Linked DNA regions of Homo sapiens. The protein of the gene in region 1 interacts with the protein of each later gene in a biochemical or structural test. Each region holds a gene or a part of one and is shown on either strand. Other genes may lie near its edges.

Evidence for each region.
Region 2: the proteins of FUNDC1 (region 1) and USP19 form a complex in vitro, tested with the Homo sapiens proteins (one study listed by BioGRID).

Annotation. Positions count from the first base shown.
Region 1 is NC_000023.11:44,535,981-44,539,891, forward strand, and holds part of FUNDC1 (FUN14 domain-containing protein 1), read right to left. Parts: intron 2,563-3,911; coding exon 2,487-2,562; intron 1-2,486. UniProt on the Homo sapiens protein: Integral mitochondrial outer-membrane protein that mediates the formation of mitochondria-associated endoplasmic reticulum membranes (MAMs).
Region 2 is NC_000003.12:49,114,057-49,117,967, reverse strand, and holds part of USP19 (ubiquitin carboxyl-terminal hydrolase 19), read left to right. Parts: coding exon 1-21; intron 22-137; coding exon 138-311; intron 312-397; coding exon 398-531; intron 532-606; coding exon 607-909; intron 910-1,024; coding exon 1,025-1,241; coding exon of another isoform or gene 1,242-1,247; intron 1,248-1,360; coding exon 1,361-1,517; intron 1,518-1,616; coding exon 1,617-1,688; intron 1,689-1,805; coding exon 1,806-1,921; intron 1,922-2,023; coding exon 2,024-2,244; intron 2,245-2,328; coding exon 2,329-2,524; intron 2,525-2,606; coding exon 2,607-2,740; intron 2,741-2,850; coding exon 2,851-3,009; intron 3,010-3,094; coding exon 3,095-3,205; intron 3,206-3,683; coding exon 3,684-3,794; intron 3,795-3,874; coding exon 3,875-3,911. UniProt on the Homo sapiens protein: Deubiquitinating enzyme that regulates the degradation of various proteins by removing ubiquitin moieties, thereby preventing their proteasomal degradation. Stabilizes RNF123, which promotes CDKN1B degradation and contributes to cell proliferation.

The DNA.
Region 1 (3,911 bases):
TTGTCTAAAAAAAAAAAAAAAGAAGAAGAAAAGAAATAATCCCGGCCGCCCGTGGTGGCTCACGCCTGTAATCCTGTAATCCCAGCACTTTGGGAGGCCGAGGCGGGTGGATCAATAGGTCAAGAGTTCTAGACCAGCCTGGCCAAGATGGTGAAACCCCATCTCTACTAAAAATACAAAAATTAGCGGGGTGCTGTGGCAGGCAGCTGTAGTCTATAATCCCAGCTACTTGGGAGGCTGAGGCAGGAAAATCACTTGAATCCGGGAGGTGGAAGTTGCAGTGAGCCAAGATTGCGCCACTGCACTCTAGCCTGGGCGACAGAGCGAGACTCTGTCTCGAAAAAAAAAAAAAAAAAATCCCAAACTTCCTAGTAGAAATAATGGCCAAAACCTTCCCAAACATGATTAAAGACATAAATTCACAGGCTCAAGAAGTTCAGTGAACTCCAAGTAATCAATCTCAGTGAACTCCATATAATGAATGATCTAACACAATTATGAAAAAAGGGAAGTAACTACACTCAGACGATTGAGGGAGAGGGAAGAAAGCATTCAGGTATGTGAGATTTGGGGAAGTATAGGGAAAACAAAACAGGTCAATAAATGACAGCTAAATTTTCCCATTCCATAATGGGAAGCCAATAGTTCACACCTAAAACTGAAAGATCAAGAAATGTCCAATTAACTTGTTTAGGGAAAAAGAGATTACTACCTTAAGAATCAGTTAAGAGTGCAAACTGGATGTCTCAAGGGATGGAAAAATGGGGGTAGTGAGAGAGGTGGAGGATTACTCTAATCTGTAACAAGCCTTGCACAAGTACTTGGCCCTTTGAATTATAAGGATGTATAACTCCAAAAAATTAAAACGAAGAGACTGTGTACTTTAAGATGGCAGTGTAATAAATATCTATTGGAAAACACTTGATATTGTTACTAGAAAAGCTTTAAGTTCTAAATAAACTAATATTTACCTTTAAATATAAGAAAGGTCATAAAAATATGAAAGTGGGCCTAAAGAATATTAGGCAATTAGCCTAAAAGCCATTTGTTACTTTATTTCCCCTTTCACTTTCCTTCTACTGAGTTTTCAAGGTTAGTCGTATTTGTGGGAAAAACTGGTTTGATGCAGATAGGTCCTATGTTGCTCTGCCTTAAAAACTTCAAAGACTACGTGTACTAAATGCGGAAAAGTGGGAGGTGGCAATGACAAAATGTGGATTTGAATGGTGCATATTGAGTGAACTGAAATGGACTTCTGAAAAACTGACATGCAGAGTGGATTAAAATATACACTTCTCTCCATTCTGTGAACATTTTAGGAAACTCTGCTTCAGTCCAGTACCCTTTTACACTAACAGAAATGACAACTGAGTCTTCAAAATAGCTATGGAATAAAATATGCTCTTGATTCCATATAAAACCAAGTCAAAATCAGCTTAAGTAAAATTATCATCTGTACTAATGCTGGCATATTCATCCAAAGAACTAAATTTAGGTATTAATCATTTTTTTTACCTCTTACCACAAGTAATAAGCAATTATTCGTAATAATGTCACCAAAAGAAAGAAAACATATATATTTTTAAAAGGCTGTTTAGTGAACAACTCAAAATCTGTGCTTCATACATACAAATCTAGTCCCCTTGTACTACAACTACACTAGTTATTACATGATCGATGGCTTAGGTGCTGAATTCAGATTCTGGTGGCTATGAACATCAATCATTTTTAAAATCTAGTACAAGTGACAGTTCTCTGTATCTTTAAAAGTGCTGCTCACATTCATTCGTAGAGATTTTCAATTTTTGGATTTACTATATTTGATCTTCAAGGAATGATATTTTTGAAAAAATACATGCCAAACAGACATGAATGCCAGATGATGCCCTGATAAACATCCTCTAATGGCAAAGCATTTTTAGATCTTATACTTACAAGAATATGAACAAAACTAAAACTTCAAATCTATCTGCCTCAGATATAAGATTATGGATTTTTGTTTTGTTTTGTTTTGTTTGGAGACAGAGTTTTGCTCTTGTTGCCCAGGCGGGAGTGCAATGGCACGATCTCGGCTCACTGCAACCTCCGCTTCCTGGGTTCAAGCAATTCTCCTGTCTCAGCCTCCCAAGTAGCTGGGACTACTACAGGCGTGCACCACCATGGCAGCTAATTTTTGTATTTTCAGTAGAGACGGGATTTCACCATGTTGGCCAGGCTGGTCTTGAACATCTGACCTCAAGGGATCTGCCTGCCTCTGCCTCCCAAAGTGCTGGGATTACAGGCGTGAGCCAATGCGCTCGGTAATGGCTGTCTTTTTAATAGCTGGGATCAAACTATGCTTAATAACTCAGAAGTATTTAAATTGTTATCTTTCAAGACAAAAGTCAGCTTCCAAAACTCATTGTAGCTCTTCCATAAACTGATGCCTAAAAGAAAAATTCCACCTTCTATGAAAGCAAAGGCAAGTGCTTAAAGCTCTGACATACCTGAAGAAGAAGAAAGCCACCACCTACTGCAGTTGCTGCAAGTTTTCCAACTTTCTGGAACAGAAATCCTGCACACCTTTAATCAAATAACAAAAGATGAAAACAATCAATTATGTACTAAACCCTCTCCCTCTTCTACTTTTCATTGCTTTCCTAATAAAATCTTATGTCTTTGCATTTCTTTTGATCACATCCCTTACCTGCTCAGAAACCTTCTCAGAAACCCCTCAGTTATACAGGCTAGTCAAAAATGCACAATCTAAAATGTCTGAAATTTGCTTCAAAATAAGGGACGGAGAGAAGAGGAGGAGAATTTATAGAAAAAAAAGAGCAGCTACTAAAATAACGACAAGTACTCAGGGGTTCATTATATTCCTCCTACATTTGTATAAGCTGAAACCTCCCGTAATAAAAGTGATGTTTTGCTTAATACAGTCAAGATGGTCCATACACCTGGTTGACCCCCACCTTCGGCTCCAACCCCATTAACCTCCAAATAGGTCATCACCTTTGCTCAAGCTATTAATCTCCCTGCTTCTAGGGGTTTCTTCCTAGCTCTACCTATCTAAAGCTTTCCTACCATTCCTACCCTTTCAGGTCCAGCTGTTGTTCCACTCAATAACTATACTTCAGCCCACATTTCTAAAGGCCTCCTTATCTATATCTACCTATTTTTATATTAAATGTTTTTTGTGTCTCATCTACCCTGTGTCAGCTCATACTTCTTTTGTCATTAATTCGCTCCTTCAGTGAGCTCACATTCCCTTCAGCATTCCAGATCCACACTGTGCAAATGAATCCTATATTTCTAACTCTAGCCTTCTGCACTGGGTTGAATGGTGTCCCCCTCAAAATTCATATCCTTCCCAAAACCTCTAAATGTGACCTTATTTGAAAACAGAGTCACTGCAGATGTAATAAGTTCAGATGAGATCATACTGGACAGGGTGGGCCTTTAATCCGATAAGGACGCACACAGAGGGAAGACGACATGTGAGGACAACAGAGGCAGAGACTGGAGTAATACGTCTACAAGCCAAGGAATGACAAGGATTGCTGGCAACCACCAGAAGCTAGCAGAGAAACATAAAACAGATTTCTCCCTCTGAGCCTCCAAGAAGGAACAAACCCTGTTGACATCCTGATTTCAGACTTCTAGCCTCCAGAACTGTGAGAGAATAAATTTCTGTTATTTAATTTAATTAATTAATTTATTTTTTAGATGGAGCTCGCTCTGTCACCCAGGTTGGAATGCACTGGTGCCATCTCAGCCCACTGCAACCTCCGCCTCCCGGGTTCAAGCAATTCTCCTGCCTCAGCCTCCTGAATAGCTGGGATTACAGATGCCCGCCACCACACCCAGCTAATTGTTGTATTTTTAGTAGAGACGGGGTTTCACAATGTTGGCCAGGCTAGTCTTGAACT
Region 2 (3,911 bases), on another chromosome or scaffold:
AAGAGGAGCAGACCAAAGAGGGTCAGTAACGAATGGGCTTTTTGTTGCTAGGGAAGGGGAGGGGGCACTTGCAATTTGGCTCCCATCTGAAGCAGTTTCATTAGGCTGGGTCTCTGTTACCTGCTTATCACCATCAGGAGCTTGTGAAGACCCTCATGATCTCTTGGCTACTCCCACTCCAGAGTTGTTGCTCGATTGGAGGCAGAGTGCAGAAGAGGTGATTGTCAAGCTTCGTGTGGGAGTAGGTCCCCTGCAGCTGGAGGATGTAGATGCTGCTTTCACAGATACAGACTGTGTGGTGCGGTTTGCAGGTGTGTCCATCTGCCCTGAGCACAGTAGTATGTTTGAATCTTCTGATATCTCCTATCCTACCTCATGGACCCTGCTCTGTCCCCAGGTGGTCAGCAGTGGGGTGGTGTCTTCTATGCTGAGATAAAAAGCTCTTGTGCTAAAGTGCAAACCCGCAAGGGCAGTCTCCTGCACCTGACACTGCCCAAAAAGGTGCCTATGCTCACGTGGCCCTCCCTCCTGGTGAGTTCTAGTAGTACAGGGTTGGGTAGGGATACCAGTGTAGTCGACAGGGCCTGACTGCTGTATCTTTGGCAGAAGAAACCTCTAGGGACCCAGGAGCTGGTGCCGGGGCTGCGGTGCCAGGAGAATGGGCAGGAACTGTCTCCCATTGCCCTGGAGCCAGGCCCTGAGCCCCACCGGGCTAAGCAGGAGGCCCGGAACCAGAAGCGGGCCCAGGGCCGTGGTGAGGTAGGCGCAGGGGCTGGCCCCGGGGCCCAGGCAGGGCCCAGCGCCAAGAGGGCTGTGCATCTCTGCAGAGGGCCAGAGGGGGACGGGTCCAGGGATGACCCTGGACCCCGGGGTGATGCCCCACCCTTCGTGGCTGACCCAGCCACCCAGGTGAGAGCTGGGCACCTGTTTGGGTGTTAGGAGATGGGGGGAAAGGGTGTGCACTGGAGTGGGAGCCACCTGGCAGACCCAGGGCTGATTCTTTCCACAATCTTGCCATTAATAGGTTGAGGCTGATGAACAGCTTTGCATACCACCGCTGAACTCCCAAACCTGCCTCCTGGGCTCAGAGGAGAATTTAGCCCCTTTGGCAGGAGAGAAAGCAGTGCCTCCCGGGAATGACCCAGTCTCTCCAGCCATGGTCCGGAGCAGAAACCCTGGGAAAGATGACTGTGCCAAGGAGGAGATGGCAGTGGCAGCAGATGCTGCAACCTTGGTGGATGGTAAAGGTGGGGGTGGGCAGGCAGAGCCCTAGGTTGGGTTGCAAAGTTTGTAGGTGGATAGAGAGTAGCAATAGGCTGGAACCTGTCCTGGTTGGGGCTGAGCCATGGTCTCAATATAGAGCCCGAGTCGATGGTGAACCTGGCGTTTGTCAAGAATGACTCGTATGAGAAGGGCCCGGATTCAGTGGTGGTGCACGTGTACGTGAAGGAGATCTGCAGGGACACCTCAAGAGTACTTTTCCGTGAGCAGGACTTCACGCTCATCTTCCAGACCAGGTGGGTGGGTAGATGATGGGGCAAACAATGCCTCAGGTGGGACAGTATGTCTCATGCTCTTCCTCTTGTCCTTCCTCCTATCCTGCTGTGCCTCTGCAGGGATGGAAACTTCCTGAGGCTGCACCCGGGCTGTGGGCCCCACACCACCTTCCGTTGGCAGGTGAAGCTCAGGTGGGTGGTGCCCGGCCCCACCACTGTGCCTGTCCTACCCCGTGGGCTCCATCTCCCTGGCTCATCTATCCTGATGCTCATTCCTCCTAAGTCCCTGAGTTCAGCCTTTTCCCACAGGAATCTGATTGAGCCAGAGCAGTGCACCTTCTGTTTCACGGCTTCTCGCATCGACATCTGCCTTCGTAAGAGGCAGAGTCAGCGCTGGGGGGGCCTGGAGGCCCCGGCTGCACGAGGTCTGCACACGAGCTCCCTTCATTGCCCAGTTCCACGTGACCAGGACCCAAACCCCTGTCACATGCTGCTAACCACCAGCCCTCTCATTCCCCCTTTTTAAGGTGCAGTGGGTGGTGCAAAGGTTGCCGTGCCGACAGGTCCAACCCCTCTGGATTCAACCCCACCAGGAGGTGCTCCCCACCCCCTGACAGGCCAGGAGGAGGCCCGGGCTGTGGAGAAGGATAAATCCAAGGCACGATCTGAGGACACAGGGCTAGACAGTGTGGCAACCCGCACACCCATGGAGCATGTAACCCCAAAGCCAGAGACACACCTGGCCTCGGTGAGAATTCTGGGGTGGGAAGGACGAAGAATGGAGGCTGGAGAGTCTTGGGGCTGTTCTCTCATGTCGTCTTTGCTCCTGCAGCCCAAGCCTACATGCATGGTGCCTCCCATGCCCCACAGCCCAGTTAGTGGAGACAGCGTGGAGGAGGAGGAAGAGGAAGAGAAGAAGGTGTGTCTGCCAGGCTTCACTGGCCTTGTCAATTTAGGCAACACCTGCTTCATGAACAGCGTCATTCAGTCTCTGTCCAACACTCGGGAACTCCGGGACTTCTTCCATGGTGAGGGCAGGGCCTGGAGCCTGGGTTATGGGCAGAGAGAGTGCCTTTGTTCCTCACACCTTTGCTCGGCTACTATTCCTAGACCGCTCCTTTGAGGCTGAGATCAACTACAACAACCCACTAGGGACTGGTGGGCGTCTGGCCATTGGCTTTGCCGTGCTGCTTCGGGCGCTGTGGAAGGGCACCCACCATGCCTTCCAGCCTTCCAAGTTGAAGGTGATCTGTGACCACTGTCACCCTTGGCTGGAGGGGGCGGGGAGGGCCAGCCAGCTGGGTGTGCAGTGGGTGCTAGGGCTTCATGTTCACACCTTGGCTCCTGTATCCAGGCCATTGTGGCGAGTAAGGCCAGCCAGTTCACAGGCTATGCACAGCATGATGCCCAGGAGTTCATGGCTTTCCTGCTGGATGGGCTGCACGAGGACCTGAATCGCATTCAGAACAAGCCCTACACAGAGACCGTGGATTCAGATGGGCGGCCCGATGAGGTCAGGGTTAGGGACAGAGGGTGGGCATGTCTCATGAGCATCCCAGCCCCTGGTACTCTTTGGTTCTCACCACTCTGCCTCTCAGGTGGTAGCTGAGGAAGCATGGCAGCGGCACAAGATGAGGAATGACTCTTTCATCGTGGACCTATTTCAGGGGCAGTACAAGTCGAAGCTGGTGTGCCCTGTGTGTGCCAAGGTGTGATGGGCTCCCCTGGAAAGAGACCCCCTAGTTCAGCTCAGCTATTCTGGTCACATTAGGTTCAGAGGCATGTGCATCTTAAGGTGCTACAGGGCAAGGTTTGGGCAAAGAAGCTGGCAGGGAGGCCTTAGGATTCTATTTGGGCTGAAGAGCCCACTCAGGGTAGGCTTCCTGACTGAGGGAAAAGTGATGTTAGAGCTCAAAGGTGTTGTAGCAGGGTTGTGGGCACATGGGGTGCAAGTGTGAGGCCAATTCGTAAAGTGGCTAAGCTGAGTAGGGCTTTGAGTGCCAGAAAGAAGGATTGTTATTTCCTGGTGGTCCTCCTGCCCTGTCTAGTGTCCTGAAGCCTGAGAGTTTGCTGGTTGGCTGTGGGGGCCCTGAGAGCCATCAGAAGCCCCGGAATGGGCTCTCTGAGCATGAGCATCTTATCTCCCACTCTGTGTGCAGCTACCCAGTGCCACCTCTACATCCACAGGTCTCCATCACTTTTGACCCGTTTCTTTATCTGCCGGTGCCCTTGCCACAAAAGCAAAAGGTTCTCCCTGTCTTTTATTTTGCCCGAGAGCCCCACAGCAAGCCCATCAAGGTGAGGAGTAAGCCCCTACCCTCTGGGCTGTTCTAGAGAACGTGGCCCACCTCCCTCACTGACTGCCCTTTTTGCCACAGTTCCTGGTGAGCGTCAGCAAGGAGAACTCCACTGCGA